Homo sapiens: one gene and its partner. The protein of the gene in region 2 purifies or fractionates together with the protein of the main gene of each other region. This does not show direct contact. Each region holds a gene or a part of one and is shown on either strand. Other genes may lie near its edges.

Region 1 (13,090 bases), on a different chromosome or scaffold from region 2:
ACGAGGTCAGGAGATCGAGACCGTCCTGGCTAATATGGTGAAACCCCATCTCTACTAAAAATACAAAAAATTAGCTGGGCATGGTGGCAGGCGCCTGTAGTCCCAGCTACTCGAGAGACTGAGGCAGGAGAACCCATGAACCCAGGAGGCAGAGCTTGCAGTGAGCCAAGATCGTGCCACTGTACTCCAGCCTGGGCAACAGAGCGAGACTCCGTCTTAAAAAAAAAATAAAAATAAAATAAAAAATAAAAAAATTATGGCCTGACACAGTGAGGGCTCACGCCTGTAATTCCAGCACTTTGGGAGGCTAAGGTGGGCAGATCACCTGAGGTCAGGAGTTCAAGACCAGCCTGGCCAACATGGTGAAACCCCATCTCTACTAAAAATACAAAAATTAGCCAGGAGTAGTGGTGTGTATCCTGTAATCCCAGCTACTTGGGAGGCTGAGGCAAGAGAATTGCTTGAACCCAGGAGGCAGAGGTTGCAGTGAGCTGAGATCACACCACTGCACTCCAGCCTGGGCAACAGAGTGAGACTGTGTCTCAAAAAAAAAAAAATTAGCTGGGTGTGGTGGTGTATGCCTGTAATCCCATCTGCTCAGGAGGCTAAGGCACAAGAATCACTTGAACCCAGGACACAGAGGTGGCAGTGAGCTGAAAGCATGCCACTGCACATCAACCTGAGTGAGAAAGTGAGATTGTCTCGAAAAAACAAGTAAGATCTAAAGAAGGCCATGTGACAAGACAGGCAGAGAGTGGAGTAACGCAGTTATAAACCAAGGAATGCCAAGGATTTCCAGGAGCCACCAAAAGCTAGAAAGAGGCAAGTAAGGATTCTCCCATAAAACCTTCAGGAAAACATGGTCCTGCCAGTACGATGAATTTAGACTTCTAGCTTCCAGCACTTGAGAGAATAAATTTCTGTTGTTTCAAACTACCAAGTTTACGGTGATTTTTTACAGTAGCCCTAGAAAAGTAATATATCAGGTCTAAATAGCCTTAGTCTTAGTGTGGGCAAAGAAAGGTTTTCATAGCACTTGGTCTCTGAATCTGTAAAGGAAGACAGAAAGACAATTCAAGGCTGGAGGATTCCCAAGATTCTAATACATAAATCATGCCATATAGGTCAGTTATTTACAAGGGTTAAAAAGTGAGTAGGGAATGTGTAATTTACAGTCAACATCCAGCCCTGATCTTGATTGTATCCTTCCACAAAAGTAATACTGCTGATTATTATCTCCATAGCCCTAAAATAACTTCACTCCCTGTTGACTGCCCTGACTTGCTTAAATAAAGCAGCTTCAAAGCAAAAGATGAAAAAGTCCCAAACTCCATTTTAAAACATATGGCAAAACAAGACATAATTTATTTTTTTGTTTCTGTTAAAGTATAAGGAGGGAAAATAGGTAGCAAAGGTTACTGCTACCTACTTTTCAGAAAACATGTATGATATCAACAGATATGATGCTCACCCACATCAGTTCCCTCTTCAAGGACAGCCTTGTTTTGAAGTTCAGGACCTGCAACATCTGTGAAAACTCCATCTTCGTCCACTAGACAATCCTATAAAGTATCATTTTGAACAATTAAAATATCAAGACATTTTCTCTTATGACAATATCTGGCAAAACAATATATATAAAAACATCTCAGTATAGCCTGGTCTTTTTCTACATTGAAATTCTAGGTACTTGGCCGGGCGCGGCACTCAGGCCTATAATCCCAGCACTTTGGGAGGTCGAGGTGGGCAGATCACTTGAGGTCAGGAATTTGAGACTAGCCTGGCCAACATGGTGAAACCCACTTCCACTAAAAATACAAAAATTAGCCAGGCATGGTGGTGTGCACCTGTAGTCCCAGCTACTCGGGAGGCTGAGGCAGGAGAATCGCTTGAACCCTGGAGGTAGAGGTTGCAGTGAGCCGAGATCATACCACACCACTGCACTCCAGCCTGGGCGACAGAGCAAGACTCCCTCTCAAAAAAAAAAAAAAAGAAAAGAAAAGAAAAGGAAATAGGAATTTGTGAATTTTATACATTTAAATCACCAAAGCCAAAATGTGTTATTGAAGCATATCCATAAACTTTAATAACAAAAGTAACAAAATATATTAAAACATCTTTGAGTGGTCTCTATTGTTTCCAAATCTATGCCTATATACACAGTTGTTCCCTTTCTGACTCACCTTTTAACTAAACGGAAATACTTGCTAAGTAACTGAAGTATGTAAAGTAAATGTAGAAAGGACTGTTTAGCTAAAACAAACAGGCTTTTTCAGGGAATAAAAGTAATTTGTCTATGTGACTTGATACTAGAAAAAAAGTATTTTAAAAGTGCCCCATGATATATATTCTTCAATTCTAAAGTGCTAATTTTCTATTAATTCTGGGAAATCTTTTTCAATTAGTACGAATTAATGAAACTTTAGAGTACTACACAAACCTGAGCATTTCACAATTATGATGACAAAAGTCATCATTTTTAAAAAATGAAGATGTTGGTTAGAATTTATCATTTCCTTTTATTAAGATGAATAATTAAAAATGATAAAAGAGGAACAGTACCATGGGCAGGTTGTGCTGAGACGCTACACCGTAGTCTTCCATACCATGAGCTGGGGCTGTGTGAACCAATCCCGTTCCTTTTGCCATGGTCACATGATTTGCAGGTAAAAGAGGAGAGGCTTTATCAGGAATTAATGGATGACTGCAAGTACCATTTTCCAAATCTACACCTGTGGGGAAAGAAAACCACTATTAAGAATCATTTTATATGGCAAATCTATCTCCTTAAGCTTAGCAATAGAGTATCAGGTTAAATGTGCAGAATCTAGAACAATACTGGCTAGGCTTAAATTCCAGCTTCCCCTTTAACTTGTTCTGTGACCTTCTATAATCTATAAAATGCAGATAATTATGGTTCCCACCTCAGAGGGTTTCTGTGAGAATAAACAGAGTTAATGTAGTTTAAGTGTTTTGATACTTACTGCATCTACCACTTAATATTCTCCCTCACCACCCTCCCAAAATGATCTCTAAGTAATTGATAAGAAATAATTCATTTTTTTCCGGAAAGAAAACCTACCCCATACAAATTACTTCATTTTTAGCTCTTCAACATTCCTACTACTTTAATAAGTAGTAGCTACGTGACACCAGCTTATTTTGACAGGGATAATATATATACTCCTCCACAATATGGTGACTCAAATAGCAACTCAATAATTATCTGATAGTAAGAATTTGAAACAATTATGCTATCTAGACAAAAGATCTTTAAATTCAACCTTAACACTTTCAAAAATCTTGTGATTTTTAGCTTCTATGATAATGTATAACTTGACAATGAAGTCTTTAATATCCTCTGCATTTATAAAAGAGCAGGGGGCTGGGTGCAGTAGCTCATGTCTGTAATTGCAGCACTTTGGGAGGCTGTGGCAGGAAGATTGCTTGAGCCCAGGAGTTTGAAACAAGCCTGGGCAACACAGTGAGAGAGGGTGTGAAGTAAATTATTATCTTGGTTTTTATTTTTATTACCCTATTGCACCAAAGAGGACCAAATGGTCTTCAAAATTCTTAAGCTCCTTTCCTGCCTCTGACATAAAAATCTTTTTATTTTTGTTAAGGTTGTTTAAACTTCTCATTGGCTTGTATCTGAACTGATTAATTTAGAGGGCTTTCCTATTTAGCTAGGCAGTCTTTCTAGGCAGTTTTTGTATCTTTATTCATGTGATAGATTTTTTAGCAAGAAATTAAAAGATATATCATACCTAAGGATCAAAGATAATTTTAGCCCAGGCATGGTGGCTCACGTCTATAATCCTACCACTTTGGGAGGCAGAGGCAGGAGGAACACTTGAGCTCAGGAGTTCAAGATCTGCCTGGGCAACATAGTGAGACCTCATCTCTTTAAAAATAAAATAAAATAAAATAGAATTTTAGTCCAGGCACAGTGGCTCATGCCCATAATCCCAGCACTTTGGAAGACCAAAGCAGGAGGATCACTTGAGGCCAGGAGTTCAAGACCAGCCTGGGCAATGTAGCAAGACCTCATCTCTACCAAAAAAATTAAAAATTAGTCCAGCATGGTGGCACACACTTGTAGTCCCAGCTACTCAAGAGGCTGAGGCAGGAAGATCACTTGAGCCTAGGATCCAGAGGCTGCAGTGAGCCAAGATGGCACCACTGCACTCCAGCCTGGGCAACAGAGCAAGACCACGTCTCAAAACAAAATGAAGAACAACAACAACAAAAAGCTAATTTTAAACTTCCCTAGACTTCCATAATTATATTTCAAAGCAGTCACTACCTCAAAAGTCCCAAATTATAGCTCACAAAGAATTATTTTGGGCTAGGCACAGTGGCTTACGCCTTTAATCCCAGCACTTTGGCAGGCCAAGGCAGGCAGATCACTTGAGCCCAGGAATTCCAGACCAGTCTGGGCTACACAACAAGAATTCATCTCTGTAAAATATTTTTTCAAAATTAGCCGGGTGCAGTGGCATGTGCCTATAGTCCCAGCTACTTGGGTGGCCAGGGCAGGAGGATTGCTTGAGCCCGGGAGTTTGAGGCTGCAATGAGCTGACTGGACCACTGCATTCCAGCAGTGGGCAACAGCATGAGACCCTGTCTCTTTAAAAAATAAAATAAAATAAAATTCCTTTGATAGAAGAACTGCTTTCTGAATAATTTTCAGAACTTATTCAATCCTTTATTAAAATTATGTATCGAAAAATAAGTATATGCATTTCCTTTCTTGCTACTTTTATTAAAACAGATAAAAACAATTTTAAAAATTAATTTTGCATAAAATTTTACCAAGTAACTACTGGATATTGCCAGAAATTAGTTTTACCTGTTGTACATTTATCAATATTCATATTTTTCTATACTCCTATCATGCTTAATGTATATTCTCCTTTAGTGTAATCAATGTAAAATGTATTCTAGAAAGGTAGAGGCCATATCTGTTTCAATTCAAAATATGCAGTTCAGCAAAGTAGTAAATTCAAGTCAGCCCAATACTTTGATGACTATGTTGTCAGATATCTAAAAATCTTCACCTGAAAGTGTTGAAATAGTCTCAAATGTTGTTTCCAAAGTAGAAGCAACAGATGCTACTTTATCTGCCGCCAGTACGTAGAGGTCTCCAGACTTAGAACATTTCACAACAGCATACCTAACATAAAATTTTAGGAGAAATTACTAATAATGAAACAAGAAAAGCCACAGATATCATTTTAATTTTTAAATAATCATTTTAGAAAAAACTGACTTCAGGCCAGCGCGGTGGCTCATGTCTATAATCCCAGCACTTTGGGAGGCCAAGGCAGGTGGATCACCTGAGGTTGGGAGTTTGCAACCAGCCTCACCAACATAGAGAAACCCCATCTCTACTAAAAATACAAAATTAGCCTGGCGTGGTGGCGCATGCCTGTAATCCCATAATCCCAGCTACTCGGGAGGCTGAGGCAGGAAAATTGCTTGAACCCGGGAGGTGGAGGTTGTGGTGAGCCAAGATCATGCCACTGTACTCCAGCCTGGGCAACAAAAGGCAAAACTCGGTCTCCAAAAAAAAAAAGAAAAAAGAAAAAACTGACTTCAAGATCAAACTGTACTATTTTCAAAACACTTTGTAACTTATACTTCTATTTCATTTTCCCGAAAAGCTGGATAAGGTCATAAAAAGGATCACCTAAAGGTTAATAAAATCTATATGAACATAATAACTAAGTTATAATTCATTAAATTTTACAATAATAAACAGGATAAAATAAATTCAAAATAATGTTAATAATGGAATACATTCTATTTGTGTATAAAACAAAAAATGCAATAATATACCCACTTTGATTCAGGCATATAGCAAACAGCTTCATTGGCTGGAATCGTCCAAGGTTGTGTGGTCCAGACCAAAATACTAACAGGAGATGAACCATCTGTGAAAATACAATTGTAAATATGTTAGCAAATGGGATAATTCTATAACTTTGGTACACTCAAGCTATGAATAAATCTTACCTATAAGAGATGCCAATTTTGGAGAAGGCTTTAAGAGAGGAAATTTTACATATATTGAACGACTGACATGCTCAGGATTATATTCAAGTTCTGCTTCAGCCAATGCAGTCCTAAGGGTTAAAAATATTAAACATAAATACTTGGAAGCCTCACAAATTTCTCCCTTTTAATTACCGAAAAATGCATATATACCTAGATGACGGAGACCAAAACACAGGTTTGTAAGATCGATAAACCAAGCCCTATAAAAGACAAAAATATGATGTTAAAAGTAGAATCTTGTAACGCATACTAAAACCTACTCAAAGAGAAAAAATACTTCTTTACCTTATCATACATTTGGTAAAAAGTTCTCAACTGTTTGGCTTCATACTTCCCATCAAATGTATAGTAGCAATTATTCCAATCTGCCATTATTCCCCAACGAATAAATGCTGATTTCTGTTTCTCAATGGCTGCTTTAGCAAATGATCTAGCTAAAAAAAAGACGAAAAAAAGATTTTAAAAAACCAATGAATTCGAATTCTTAAACATGGTTTAGCATGTATCTCTCTAAATGCAAATGCTACAGACAGTTTAGAATGCAAATTTTTTTTGAGACACAGTCTCGCTGTCACCCAGGCTAGAGTGCAGTGGCGCGAGTGGCATGATCTCGGCTCACTGCAAGCCTCTGCCTCCCGGGTTCACGCCATTCTCCTGCCTCAGCCTCCTGAGTAGCTGGGACTACAGGCGCCCGCCACCACGCCCGGCTAATTTTTTTGTAGTTTTAGTAGAGACGGGGTTTCACTGTGTCAGCCAGGATGGTCTGGATCTCCTGACCTCGTGATCTACCCGCCTCAGCCTCCCAAAGTGCTGGGATTACAGGCGTGAGCCACGGCGCCCGAGCACAAAATTTTTTTTTTTTGAGATGGAGTCTTGCTCTGTTGCCCAGGTTGGCATGCAGTGGCGGATCTCAGCTCACTGTAACCTCTGCCACACAGGTTCAAGCAATTCTCGTGCCTCAGCCTCCCAAGTATCTGGGACTACAGGCGTGAGCCACCATACCTGGCTAATTATTTGGTATTTTTAGTAGATACGGGGTTTTGCCATGTTGGCCAGGCTGGTCTCAAACTCCTGACCTTAGGTGATCGATCCACCTCCCTCAGCCTCCCAAAGTGCTAGGATTACAGGCATGAGCCACTGTGCCCAGCCTATAAAAATTTTTTAATAGAAAAATAATTTGAAGGTCAACAGTGTTCAGAAGATACCTACAACAAATTCTAAAATTAACTGGAATTGCAAAAGTTAAAATTTTATTACTGTCTTCTGTATTTTCCAGACTTTATACAATGACCTCATATTTAGGACAAATAAACTGGAAAAATTATTCCTTATTGTTTCTTAATTTAAGAAAAGGTCAGATAACAATTTTCATTTCATTATACACAAAAAATTAATCAGAATATCAAATCTAAGCCAATGATAATAGGTTTCACAAGGAAGTAAAAAAATCTTCACAGTTACATCCAAATGTACAATAGTATAACATATAAGAAAAAGAGAATCCTCCCTTGGCCCAGTCGACTGAAGAAAAAGGATCAAATAAAAGATTAATGTAAAATATATGTATTTTAGAATTGAATTTTGGCTTAACACCTAAAATCAGTCAACAAGCCCCCTTGAGGAAAGCAGAAAAAAGAATTTACCAAAAAATAGTTTTTTAAAATATGAACATTAAGAAACTGAGAATGCAATCAGAAATGCTCACAAAGTCTTTCCTTCAATATCCAAACATAAGTTCTTACAAAAATCAATGAAATAAAATCTGAATTTTCTGTGACAGAAAGGCGTTTCCAATAGATCTTATTATAAGCAAACGAAACCCAAACAAAAGGTTCCTTTGGTAAAGTTCTGACTATTTCAAGGACCTGAGTGTTTACAAATATCATTTTAAAACAGAAATACAGATTATTTACCTTTCTTTCTAATTTCCATAGCTGAAAGATTCTGAGCTTCTCTACCAAGTTCTGATAATACTTTTATTTCAATGGGCAACCCATGACAATCCCAGCCGGGCACAAAATGTATTTTGGAGCCATTCATCATATGGAATCGATTGGCTATGTCTTTCAAAATCTGCAAAGATAAAATGATAATTATCATTCATACATAAAATATTTGGCCATGTATTTCAAAATCTGCAAAGATAAAATGATAATTAGCATTCATACATAAAATATTTGGCCTACAATTTATGTTCTTTTTTTTAAACTTAATACCATTTTTAAAACTGCAATTTGAAAGGAAACGTATAAATTAACTCATAAAAAAACTATTGACACAAATAGTCTAATATTATTTATATTGAGCTAAGAAATATCATCAAACCATTGCAGAACTTACAGTGTACTCAGAGAATGGAATATTGTGGTTAACTCTGTCATTGACAAACCCTTACTAAAACAGTAGACCTCTTCATTAGGTATAGTTCTAGAACCAATTTACCTTTTTAAATTCATTTTAGATACCAGAGGGCAGCAGAGCCTTTTAAAAAATATATTACTATAGTTGAATGGAGGAATCAAAGGCAAAGGATAGATTTGGCTCCAAGCTCAATTTCCTTCTTCCCAAGAGGAAACAGTGCTCTGACCACTAGCCCAGTAGTCCAGAAAACAATTTCCTCCTTTCCATGCCTATCAAAAGTAGAAAAGATATTATTATATTCTCCTCCCATCCCTTCCCCCCTTTAAAAACTCTAATTTCAAACTGTTTACTAATGAACAGGAAGGAGCCTTGTGATCTGAGTGGTTGTCACATTAAAAAAAATTCATCTAGCTATACATACTTAAGATTGGTTCACTTTACTCTGGGTATATTATTTAAATCAATCATCATATAAATAACCTCCTTTCTACTTAACTCTTTGGAAATTGTTTACTTATTTTTTTGTCTCTTCCCTGTAAAACATAAACTCCATGAAATCAGAGAGCCCATCTGTCCTCTTCACCTATGAATTCCAGCCTTTCGAATGGTTTCTGGCACTAGTCTATAAATATTTATCAAATACATGAATACATGGATGCATATATGCTCTAAACAATGGTATCTTATATAGTAGCCACTGGCCACATGTGATTTTTGGTGCTAGTCCGAATTCAGATGTAATGTAAATTATAAAATATATACCTGATTTCAAACATGTTTTACGAAAATGTGATATATCTCAAAAATGTTTTACATCGACTGTATGTTGAAATGATACTTTAGATATGTTGAGTTAAATGTAATATTAAAATTAATTTCACTTGTTTCTTTTCATTATTTTCTGGGGCCACTAGAAAAATTTTAACTTACCTATGTGGCACAAATTTATAGCTTGCATTATATTTATTTCTTTTTTTTTTTTTTTTTTTTGAGACGGAGTCTCGCTCTGTCGCCCAAGCTGGAGAACAGTGGTACAATCTCGGCTCACTGCAACCTCTGCCTCCCAGGTTCAAGTGATTCTCCTGCCTCAGCCTCCTAAGTAGCTGGATTACAGGCACATGCCACCATGCCCAGCTAATTTTTTTGTATTTTCAGTAGAGAGGGGGTTTTACCATGTTGGTCAGGCTGGTCTCGAACTCCTGACCTGATGATCTGCCCGCCTCAGCCTCCCAAAGTGCTGGGATTACAGGCCAGACCCACCACGCCCAGCCGCTTGCATTGTATTTCTACTGAATAGTGTTGCTTTCAGTCATATGAACAGGATGAAATCAATCACTGGAACTAATAATTAACAGTGTACCTAATAAGGATTCTTAAATGTAATAATAAAATATAATATATGAAGCCTCTAGTGAAAAGAATAGTAGCAATATCATAGGAATATTTTACTAACTCCTCAGTATCAAACACCACCCTCCTTCTCCCCAAAAAAAGTTCCTCCATACTTTTAAGAGTCATTTATCTCTGTTCCTTTCATTTTTCTAATATTCATGCATTGCTTTGTTTGAGGGATAAATATCTGAATGCCTACTGTATGTCAAGAATTTTTCTAGGAACCTAGAATATAGTAGTAAACAAAAACGACAAGGTCTTTTTTCTCATGGAGGAACACAGAATATATACCAACATATCACACACTATGGAGAAAAAAGCAAATTATAGGGTTAGAAAATGACATTTAGGGGCTGGGGGTGGTACCATTTTAGAGGGAAGTCAAGAGAGCCTGGTAAGATGACATTTGAACAGAATCTGAAAGAAATGAGGAGGTGATCCATGTGAATATTCTGGTGATGCATTCTAGGAAGAGGAGAAAGCAAGCAAGACTATAATTAGCATGTGTGAGGAAGAGCAAGAATTGGTCCTTCCCTAGTTCCAAAGTGCCCATGCTCTTTGCTAAGGGCTTCAAGAAGGTTTCTCTTCATGTGAGAGATAGTTTTGTAAGATGCCACTGTTTTGGCCGGGTGCAGTGGCTCACGCCTGTAATCCCAGCACTTTGGGAGGCCGAGGCGGGTGGATCATGAGGTCAGGAGATGGAGACCATCCTGGCTAACATGGTGAAACCACGTCTCTACTAAAAAATAATACTAATAATACAAAAAATTAGCTGGGCATGGTGGCAGGCACCTGTGGTCCCAGCTACTCGGGAGACTGAGGCAGGAGAATGGCGTGAACCCGGGAGACGGAGCTTGCAGTGAGCCGAGACTGCGCCACTGCACTCCAGCCTGGGTGACAGCGTGAGACTCTGTCTCAAAGAACAACAACAACAAAAGATGCCACTGTTTTTTATGGAATTATTCCTTTGTCCTCAATCCACATGGAGCTGGCTCCCTCTGCTGCAGCTCCAAGAGTGAACACGTGATCCACTGTAGCCATTAACATATTCTATCCCCAAGTCTGCAATGACTGATTCAGAAATAGATGTGCGACCCAAATCAGGCCAATGAGATTCAATTCCAGGACTTTTATAAGAATTATTGGGGGCCAGACGTGGTGGCTCACGCCTGTAATCCCAGCACTTTGGGAGGCAGAGGCGGGCAGATCACGAGGTCAGGAGATCGAGACCATCCTGGCTAACACAGTGAAACCCCCTCTCTACTAAAAATACAAAAAATTAGCCGGGCGTGGTGGCAGGCGCCTGTAGTCCCATCTACTTGGGAGGCTGAGGCAGGAGAATCGCTTGAACCCGGGAAGCGGAGATTGCAGTGAGCCAAGATTGCACCACTGCACTCCAGTCCGGGCGACAGTACAAGACTCTGTCTCAAAAAAAAAAAAAAAAGAAAAAAGAACTGTTGGGAAAGAGAAGGTGGAATTATGTAAGCCTGAAACTACTGGGAAATGTGCTGGGGGTCTGGGGTGGGGCAGTCACTAAAGTAGCAAAGAGTGAGAGACAGAAACCAATTCTTAATTTTATGTGAATTCCTGATCCAGCTATGCAGGTGGCTAAAACTATCTGGACTCTACAGTAAAAAAGCCAGTAAATTCTCTCTCTTTGCTTAATCCAGTTAATGTTGGCTCTTCCATTCCTTGCAAAAGGGTTTGAAATAATAGAGTTTTATTCTGTATTTATATCACAAAACATGATTTTTTTTTTTTTTTGAGACGGAATCTTGCTCTGTTGCCCAGGCTGGAGTGCAGTGGCGCGATCTCGGCTCACTGCAAGCTCCGCCTCCCGGGTTCACGGCATTCTCCTGCCTCAGCCTCCCGAGTAGCTGGGACTATAGGCTCCCGCCACCATGCGTGGCTAATTTTTTGTATTTTTAGTAGAGACGGGGTTTCACCGTGTTAGCCAGGATGGTCTCGATCTCCTGACCTCGTGATCCGCTTGCCTCGGCCTCCCAAAGGGCTGGGATTACAGGCGTGAGCCACTGCGCCTGGTCTCTTTAATAGCACTATTGACCCATTCAGTGACCAAATTCCTGGTTTTGAAACTACAGATGCCTAAGCCCACTTCCTCCCCAAAATTTCCACTGAAATCTACAAAAAATAAAGAACTGAAAAATGAGTGAACAGATTGTAGTATTAACATATTCTCTCAATGAAATTCTACTAAGCATTTTAAAAATAATGAATTATTGATATCTGTGGGCCAAGCACTGATTACAGGCATGAGCCATACTGCCCGGCCAAGACATACCTTTTTTTTGTCCACTGCTATTCCCAGATTCTAGAACAATGCCTCGCCCGATAATTATGCACTGAATAAGATGATGTTTACTAATATAACGTTAAGCTCAAAGCAAATAGCAGCAATTTTTTTTATGCAGTACTAAAATTGTATATTGCTTTCTATGAAAATGTTTTAGTTTTATGTGCAAATCTAAATTTACATAATTATCATATAATTAGAATACACATTTATAAAGAGTATTTACATAAACACTTTCTTTCAAGTGTCATAACCTAAATTATAGTTACCTTATTTAAAGCATGTCCAACATGAGGGTCACCGTTTGCATAAGGAGGTCCATCATGAAGGCAAAATTCTGTCTTTACTTTTCTTTCTCTTTGCCATGAATAAAGTTCTGAAAATCCACATTTCTGTTTTAAAAAAAAAAAAGATATCTAAACATCATATAAATACATACTCCTGAGTCTAACCATAAATAACAGCCAACACTTGCTTATTTCCATTCCAATTACATTCCAATCTATTCCATTCCAATCTACTCAACTCTGAAATACAAGGTGAGGTTTCTGAAATGCGTGTCAAAGTACGCATCTCTTAAAATCTTTCAGTAATGTCCCCATACACCTCAGATTGAAGTCTAAACTCTTTATATGATATGCAGCACCCTACAAAGGTTTAGTGCCACTAAGTTCTCGGGCATTCTTTCATCACTCCCCATGCTTCACTCCTCACCCCCGACATGTTGAAGGACCTGCAGATTCCCGACACACATATTCTTGCTATTCTTTGGCGGCAATGCTTGCCATTCCCCAAATCTGGGAACAACATGCATGGCAGTCTAAGTCACTTCCCTTCCCTCACTTGCTGTATGATTTTGTCCAGGTTACTGTGCACTTACGGGCCTGCTTTCTTATCTGAAAAAAAAAAGTGTTAATATCCATCTTACAGGGCTGGTGTGAAGATTAAACGAGGAAACATTTG
Region 2 (8,790 bases):
TAGATTATAGTCTTTCTACTAATTTTGTCAGGAAACCACACTCAGTTTTTTCATTGTACTTTACAACTCTATAACAGAAAAAAGGATATATATTTTAAAGTTGATTTAAAAAAAAAACTTGTATCTACAATAAAGCTACATGCCAAGCTAAAAGGTGAAAGGTCATAGTACCAGGTCAAAGGTTGCCTCGAGGGGTCGCTTCAGTGATTTGACAGCCGACTGAGTCTTAATTAGCAGGCAGCGAGCACATGATGGCAATGGGCCAGTGGGGTTCAAGCGCATTAACATAAACAGCAAGCAGAGGTGCATCATGGGGGCAGCAGTGCATTTTTGGGTAGGTGAGAAAAAACAAATAAAAAAACAAATCATCGGAATGCCATATACAACGAATAACAAGACTAAGCATGCACAATAAAGGCACTACTGAGTTGTTATTGGGAGGATAACTCCTCTTTGTAGTTAATTACAAACAAGATACTCTAACAGAAAAAAAAAAGAGTGAAAGGAAGAGAGGAGGAGAGAGTCTGCCTTCTGTATTTTTGCTCAAGTATCCATAAACACAGAAAAGATCTCTCTCGTGATTATTTCACTGTGTTATGAAATACTACACAGTGACTTTTAAAATGAGTATTTCATTGATTTAAGTCATATATTTATGTAAAAAAATGACAACATTAAAACAGGTAAGCAAAGAACAAAGAATGGGCTCATTAAAATCAGCTACTAGATCACATTAAAATTTACCTTGAGAATATAGTTTAGTAGCTATTCTTAATGATCCAATTTCTAACTCCTTGAGTACTGCTGTCTCTCTCCTGTCTATATAATGGCATAGTCAAGCTTCTCTAGTGTTACTATTATGTTTATGCCACAATATTATTTCAGACAATCTAGATAGTATACTACTCAAAATCCTGTAGCTAATTCTAAGAACAATTTTGTTGAACAATTCTCCTAAATAGTTCCAGATCATGTTATTGTTAAAAGCAAGATATATGTAAAGAAGAGCCTTGATGTGCAAAAGAACACACCAAAGGAAAACAATGGCTGATTAGATGGCACACAGAAATAAGAAGACTGAAAATGGCAATATCGTTAAGTTGAAAAGGAGACAGGTGGTTCTTTACAAAGCAGAGATTTCAGAAACCCTACATCCACAATAAGACAGATTAAGAGTTAGGCCAAGAGTAGGAGCAATCTGAACCATTTGAGGAGTTACCCTCACTTCTGTGAAAGTAACTTCTTTATATATTGTCTGGGATACCTGAACAAACATATCTTCAGCAATTTTTTTAAAAAGGTTACTAAATGAATAGCTTGTAGTCAGATATAGTTGCTCACTTTGCTTTTCTGACTGCTAACAAGGAGAGAGCTGATATCTCTACTCACCATGGCAGCTGCGGTGGCTGCAGCCTGTGCAGCTGCAGCCTGGTTGACCTGGTATTGGGCAGCCTTGATCTTGGCTTGCAAATGTGCAGGGGGATGAAAGTATTTGCACTTTTCCCGAGAGCATCTCCCTTTGATGTAATCCATACACACAGTGACTGTGTTGTCATTGGTGTCAATCATTGTGCTGTCAGCAGGATGAGCAAACCGACAATCATTTTCTCCTCGGTTGCAATTGCCACGTTGGTACTCTCGACATACCTATGAGGTCATTAAGTACATGAGGTTTAGTCAACATGAAGAAGAAGAAGCTTTCTGAAGATTTTAACTTAAAGTGCAAGACTGGTGACAGAAGGCTATAGATGAAAAGGGAAAATGATTTTCAAACAAGGCAACAAGTAACTTCAGCATTTCCTAGTTTAGTTACAAATTATAACTCCATTTCAGTATAAATGTCCATAAGAAAATGCATGTATAATGTTAATTATGGTAAAAATACAATCTGAAATGGTGTTGATAAACTTATTAATTGCAAAGGGAAAAATAATAACTTCACAGTAAAGAAACATGGAAAACATCACTTTAACCAAGTGATCAAAATTAATATCACCAATAATGAGACATAATGATGTTGTGTATCTATTGATATGATACAATGAGAAGGGCACACAATCACAGTAGAGGTAGTACTGCCTGAATTTAATCAAGATGAAACATCAGATGAAGTGAATGGAAAGATATTTTACTAATAACCGACTAGTACTCTCCCAAAGTGTCAAGGTCATGCAAGACAGACTGAGATATTATCACAAGCTGGAGGATCCTGGAGTCACAGAAAGAATATTGGGAGGACAATTGGTAAAATTTGATTAAAGTCTGTAGATTGGTTAAACAGCAGCATATCTATGTTAATTTTTCTGGTCTTAAGAGGGATTCTACAGTTATGTAAGATATTAATATTTAGATCAGTAAAGCGTAGACAGAAACTCTTGGGTCCATTTTTGCAACTTTCGTGTAAATATAAAATTATTTCCAAGTGAAAAATATACAAAATCAAATTTGATAGCTTTTTATGAAAATGTTTCCAGGAGTTATTTTTTTGATCTTTAGAGATTCACTTGGTAGCTATATAAAGCAGTAAAAAAAGATTGGTTTTGTTATGTCTGTTTGTTTTATATTTGCTAATTCTGTTAATTTTGCCACGGAGATCTTAGGGAAAAGGCGAGAACATTATTTCTCATTCATCTGCGCAATTTTGACTCTTACTATTTAAAAGCAGTCTTCATTCAGGATACTTTGACCCTTTTACCACAAGAGGGCCATCTAAAACACAGAATGTCCTTTTAATATTTTCGTGCTCTTACTTCAAGCTTCAAGGAAACAGTTTTTAATTGTTCAAGTATCTTTTCACAAATAGCAAACGCAGATACTAAGCACTTTATTTTGAAGTTAAGCAAGAAAGAAAAACTGTAACCCTACTACGACTTAGGAAGCAAAGGTTTTCTTGGATTTGTATAAATACAATGATTGCATTTAAATCTGGGTGTTTTCCCACATTATATTCATATCCTATTATTGAGGAAAGTGTTTCTTAAAGAAGGAGATACTATAATCTGTATCATGCTACATCTTAAAAAAGAGCATTATAAATGATATCTTGCACTACTTGGAAACCTCAACCTAGCTAAAGTTTTGTGTTCCAAATACATACAATGAGCCAGTGTCATTCACCACTACACTCAGTTATTAAGATCACAAAAATGACTTAAAAAGTTATTCAAGATTCTGGTTTTTTATTAGCATATTTATCTTATTGAACATAAGAAAAAAAGTATTACCAAGATTTATAACTTAAAAGCAAAAAATGATCAAGCTGTTACCGAGAATAATTATCCTCCTCTCTGGCTGAACATTAGCATCAGCTATGGAGCTTGCTAAAACAGTACCCAGTACCTAATCAAAATTTATTGTATGTGAGGCTCATCACTATACTCAGGAAGAGTGATGTGCCTACATTAAATAATGATAAAAAGTTGTGTGTGTGTGTGTGTGTGTGTATGCTAAATATATACTACTGCATAAACGAAAGGGCTACTTTTCTGTTTAAGCAAGTCTATGTCAATGTAGGCATCACCAAACAGGAAACTTGCAGAAGGTCTATAAGTGATCTCTCTCAGCTGCTATTTGCTCCCTCAGTAATTCCTGCTTTCTTGAATATGCTCAAAATGAATTGGCAGCAGGGAACTAATACTCTACTTTTCCAATTTAGGTTACTCTTTGCCGCATTAACAAGAAAGAAGACTTGAATTTATTTAGGTTCTGTGTGTATGTATTTGCATGTGTGTGTGTGTGGGGGGGGGGGTTTCTACAGGTTAAGGATTGGTTTATTATAATTTCATGTTCTTTACTCTCCTGTGGAACATTTAGAAAGAATTCTAAAAATATTTAAGCAGACTTAATAACTAAGAATTAGCTCAGAATGTGTCATAAAACCAACCTTTTCTGAGGTTAAAAAAAACTTAGTCAACTGCTTTTGCATAATATGCATGTTTGACTCTTTCATATTTTTATTTTTTTTTACAGCTTACGGTTTCTCCTAAGAAATAGGACAGAAACATACTGTAATAGCTACTCTCACATTATTCTTGCTTGTGAAAAAATAAGGAAGAGAAAATCTCTTGTGAAAACTTGTACTGGTGAGAGTTACAGGCCAGTGGGACTGGAAATTTACCAAGCATTAGATATGCATCTGAATAGTGGGGTACCTATGGGAACATGAACTTCCCAAACCTTCTAAAACACATTTTCCCTAATAGACATCATCAATAAAATGGGATCTATCCCTTGGTTGCTCAATATGAGTTTGATCTGGTTTCTCTGATAAACTCAAGGACACTTTAGACTATGCTGATACCCAAAATAAATCTCTTAGACATACTATTACATTAGTAAATTATAACTGACAACATTTCACAAATTTAATCTCATAATTAAAAACAGGATAAGAAATTATAACATTTATCATACAGAGAATTTGAAACAGAATATAAAATTAAATCTGAAAATTCTAACAACACTGTGGTTCATTTTTCTCTTCTCATCCAGTCTTCTGTATGTATGCACACATTTTTAAAAATAATTGTAATTATAGTATAGCTATTATTTGGTGATCTTTTATGCTCAACAATGCAGCATAAGCATTTCTCATTTTGCTAAATAATTTCCAGAGTGAATACTTTTGATGGCTGCATCAAATTTCATCAAATAGTGTACATAATACAGGTAACTCTTTTGGAGGATATCTAGATAATTTCCAGTATTTCCATATTACAAGTAATATTCCAAGAATATATCCATGACTATAGGCATTTTTCATTATTTTTGGCAGATAAATGTACAGATTTATTGGTATATGTGTATGTACTGGGTCAACACATAAAAATATTTTCTGACTGGGCGCGGTGGCTCAAGCTGGTAATCCCAGTACTTTGGGAGGCTGAGGTGGGTGGATCACTTGAGGACAGGAGTTCGAGACCAGCCTGGCCAACATGGTGAAACCTCATCTCCACTAAAAATACAAAAATTAGCTGGGCATGGTGGCAGGCGCCTGTAATCCTAGCTACTCAGGAGGCTGAGGCACGAGAATTGCTTGAACCTGGGAAGTGGAGGTCGCAGTGAGCCAAGATCGTGCCACTGCACTCCAGCCTGGGCAACAGAGCAAGACTCTGTCACAAAAGAAAAAAAATATTGTTTGATAAATGGTTTTCAAACCTGCATTAAAACAATAAGATCTATTTAGCTACACATATAATGTGATTCAACATGAGCCTTTTACTTTACAAATACTAAGGCAAGATTTGACAATGAAGATATTCACTGAAAACATTTAAGTTCTATTTCCAGAAAAACATCTATGGAATAATTATAAACTTTAAATAATCAAAAGAAAACATAATCAGGAAAATTTCCCAAGAAAATGTAAATTAATTCTAAATAAACCTTCTTTTGTTAACTAAATAGCAATAATATAGCGGACAGACAATAGGGTTTGGAGTCAAAAATTGTGAGTTCCAGTTCCTATCACTTTACTAGCTAAGGAATCTTCACAATGAAAACACTATTAACATCTATTTAAAAGGTCATGAATACTGAATAAAATAATGCATAGCTTACAACACACCATACAAATCTGGATAATATGAATAATCCTGTCATTTGATCTCTAATTTTTTAATACATGAAAAACTATATTTCAAAATGGTCAAAATAACGTAAGTTTTATAAGTAGTATTAAACTCAGCAATGCTCTCAAGTTAAAGCACTGGGATTCTAAGGAGATTAATGTCAATATTTGAATTTATTCAAAAGTGGAGGGTCATTTGCATATTCTTTAAGGAGATATCCCTTTGAGGTAATATGTTTTGTGTTCACCATATTTGTATAATTAACTCAGTCATCTTGGAGAATAACAATCAAAAGCAGGAACAGAAAGCTAATTATAACAAGAAACAGGGACTTTGTCCATTTTAACATTTTGAGAAGTCAATTTAATAGTTAATGGCCAATATTAAGAAACGTATTCAAAGACATATAGCTACATGTTCACCAATAAGCAGCATGGACTTCACTTTCTATTAAGCTGGAACTAACAAGCTAAATTTTTCTAAGTATTACTTTAAAAAGTAATCCTAGATAATCACTTTGATCAATCACTTTGATCAAAGTGTCCACAGCATCGCTGATCATGAGTTTATAATTTAATGTAAAGAAATTATCTCTATTTTCATTTAAAAAGGATTAAAATATCTACTTTGTAATCCTCATAATTCTGGTGATTAGGTAAATGTAACTGTAGTCAATTTATTGTACAATTAAAATCCCTAGATAAATATCGGATGATGTGATTTCTAGTTTCAGTTGGTGATATGGTTTGGCTGTGTCCCCACCCAAACCTCATCTTGAATTCCCACATGTTGTGGGACAGACCCGGTGGGAGGTAATTGAATCATGGGGGCATATCTTTCCTGAGCTGTTCTTAAGATAGGGAATAAGTCTCATGACATCTGATGGTTTTAAAAGGGTTATGTCCCTGTGCAACCTTTTTTCTTGTCTGCCACCATGCAAAACGTGCTTTCCGCCTTCTGCCATGATTGTGAGGTCTCCCTAGCCATGTGGAACTGTAAGTCCAATAAACCTCTTTCTTTTCGTAAATTGCCCAGTCTTGGGTATGTCTTTATCAGCAGCGTGAAAATGGACTAATACATTTGGTTATTCAATAATTGTACATATTTGATCAATTTTTCTCCTTCCAAAAAAATTCAAGAAAAGGACACCTACTTTAGCTACCTCATAGTATTTCTGTTAGGATCAAATGGGAGCATTCTTTGAAGCCTAAAAGGCAGACTCCATCATTACTATTCAGGCCAGAAAACACAAGCATGCTTCTATAGGTAACAGAACTAAGAATCTACCACTTGATCTCTTATAAAAACATAAAATAAAATCTGAATAGGAATGACCAAAGACAGAACCATTAAATCCACTTCCACGTTGTCATTTATTCATTCCCATGAATGACTGTGCAAACCCAAGAGGACAGGAAAATAGACACAACTTTGAAACAAGCTTGTCAATACACCAAATTAGCCATTACCTTATTTCATTTATGTTATTATTATTATTATTATTACTACTTGAGATAGGGTCTCCCTCTGTCACTCAGTCTGGAGTGCAGTGGTGCAATCTCAGTTCACTGCAGCCTCAACCTCCCTGCTCAAGTGATCCTCCCACCTAAGTCTCTCAAGTAGCTGGGACTGCAGGTGTGAACCACTGTTCTTAATATAGCAATTACTATACTCTATACCATATCAAAACTCTAATCACATAGATTAATAATTGACAGAGCCATAGTGTATTAAATTGTTTAAATGAAGATGTGACTACATTTTTAAGAGCCATTCTAAAGTTTATTACAGATATAAAAAAACAACCTACATAAACCTCTATGTGAAAACTCTTAAGGTTTCTTGGCAATTTTCTGGAGATAGTAAAAAAAGTCACACAAGCAGTAGCCAAACATCCTCTACAAAAATGCAAAATTAAAATAATCCTACCGATAAGACTTTCCTACATTATTAAAAGCATCTTCTTTCCTAATCTTTTCTGAATAGAAAGTCTTTTATCCCATCATGTTAAATCCACTAAACACCTAAAAAATCCCAACATAGGCATGCTTTTCACTGTCATTCTAATCCTCATTTAGCTTTAAACGTTCTATTTTTTGTAGTCAATGGGTATTATATTTTTTTCTGCCTACATGAAAAGGGTTATTAGATTCTTCTGTGTAAGTAATGGAAACATACAACAATTAGTGGCCCAAATTAGAAACTTGTGTAATGATTACCTCACAGAATAAAACTTTCAGCCAAGAATAATTTATTTTATATTTTAATACAAGCAAACGCGAACTGAAACTATCAGAAACCAAGTCGTTTGCCCACCTTTCCTGGAATACTCATGCTTTTCTCATATAGACTGCTGATGTAAAAATGGTGCAGCTAACCAAATGTCAATCTAATGTTTTCATCAGTGTCTGGAATACGTGTCCCCTGGTTTTTATTGGATTACGCCTATGTAATATGAATTACCTTAACAGTCATCATTGTTTACCTAAAGTATTTCACTATGCCATGCACAGTGTTCTTACCAACTTATCTGAGGAGACAGATTTTTAATTAAGTTTCACAAAAAACCATATCATTTACAAATACATTAAGTAAACGATGAAAAAGTTGAAGCCTAAATAAGAGATGCTAGTATCTTTTAGTGCATGTGTTTTTAACTATTTGCATTTAGAATCACATGGCAGAAAAATATTATCAAACCCCACTGCAGATCTACTGAATCAATCTTTGGGGATGAGGTCCTACATTTTTAACAATCACCCCATGTGATTCTAATCTCATTAAAGTATGAAAACCACTCCTTTAGGTCTAGGTGCATAACCAAGATGCTGTATTTTATAGCTGAAGTGCTCAAAATGCAAACATGTTTCCAAGGAGAATGTTAACACATGATAAACATTTTTTATATTTTAGTACCTCTGTGGGATTACCCTGAGTCCTGAATAAGGGGATGTATCTTTCTGTGTTTAATTACCTGAGTAACTGGTTGACTGACTCATTTATCCATTCATTTAACAAGTTACTGGGCATCAGTCATGAGTTTGGGCACTATTCTCATGTGGATCTTTTATTGTCATTGATAAGACAGGAATTAAAGCATTTCAAAGACATTTCTCACATCTTCTACTTGAAATATTTTCAACAGTTTTCTACTGAATATCGTTCAGTAAATGAGAGAATGAATGCATTCATGAATTCTTTTTGCACCATAAAAAATTAC

The links.
Region 1: the proteins of MBNL1 (region 2) and IARS2 purify together in Homo sapiens (affinity purification with mass spectrometry; 2 studies listed by BioGRID and IntAct, with this or other methods). This does not show direct contact.

Annotation. Positions count from the first base shown.
Region 1 is NC_000001.11:220,095,533-220,108,622, reverse strand, and holds part of IARS2 (isoleucine--tRNA ligase, mitochondrial precursor), read right to left. Parts: intron 12,520-13,090; coding exon 12,397-12,519; intron 8,134-12,396; coding exon 7,974-8,133; intron 6,495-7,973; coding exon 6,346-6,494; intron 6,261-6,345; coding exon 6,211-6,260; intron 6,129-6,210; coding exon 6,019-6,128; intron 5,937-6,018; coding exon 5,846-5,936; intron 5,177-5,845; coding exon 5,061-5,176; intron 2,733-5,060; coding exon 2,563-2,732; intron 1,563-2,562; coding exon 1,472-1,562; intron 1-1,471.
Region 2 is NC_000003.12:152,438,139-152,446,928, reverse strand, and holds part of MBNL1 (muscleblind-like protein 1), read right to left. Parts: intron 1,648-8,790; coding exon 1,390-1,647; intron 226-1,389; coding exon of another isoform or gene 172-225; intron 1-171. UniProt on the Homo sapiens protein: Mediates pre-mRNA alternative splicing regulation. Acts either as activator or repressor of splicing on specific pre-mRNA targets. Inhibits cardiac troponin-T (TNNT2) pre-mRNA exon inclusion but induces insulin receptor (IR) pre-mRNA exon inclusion in muscle.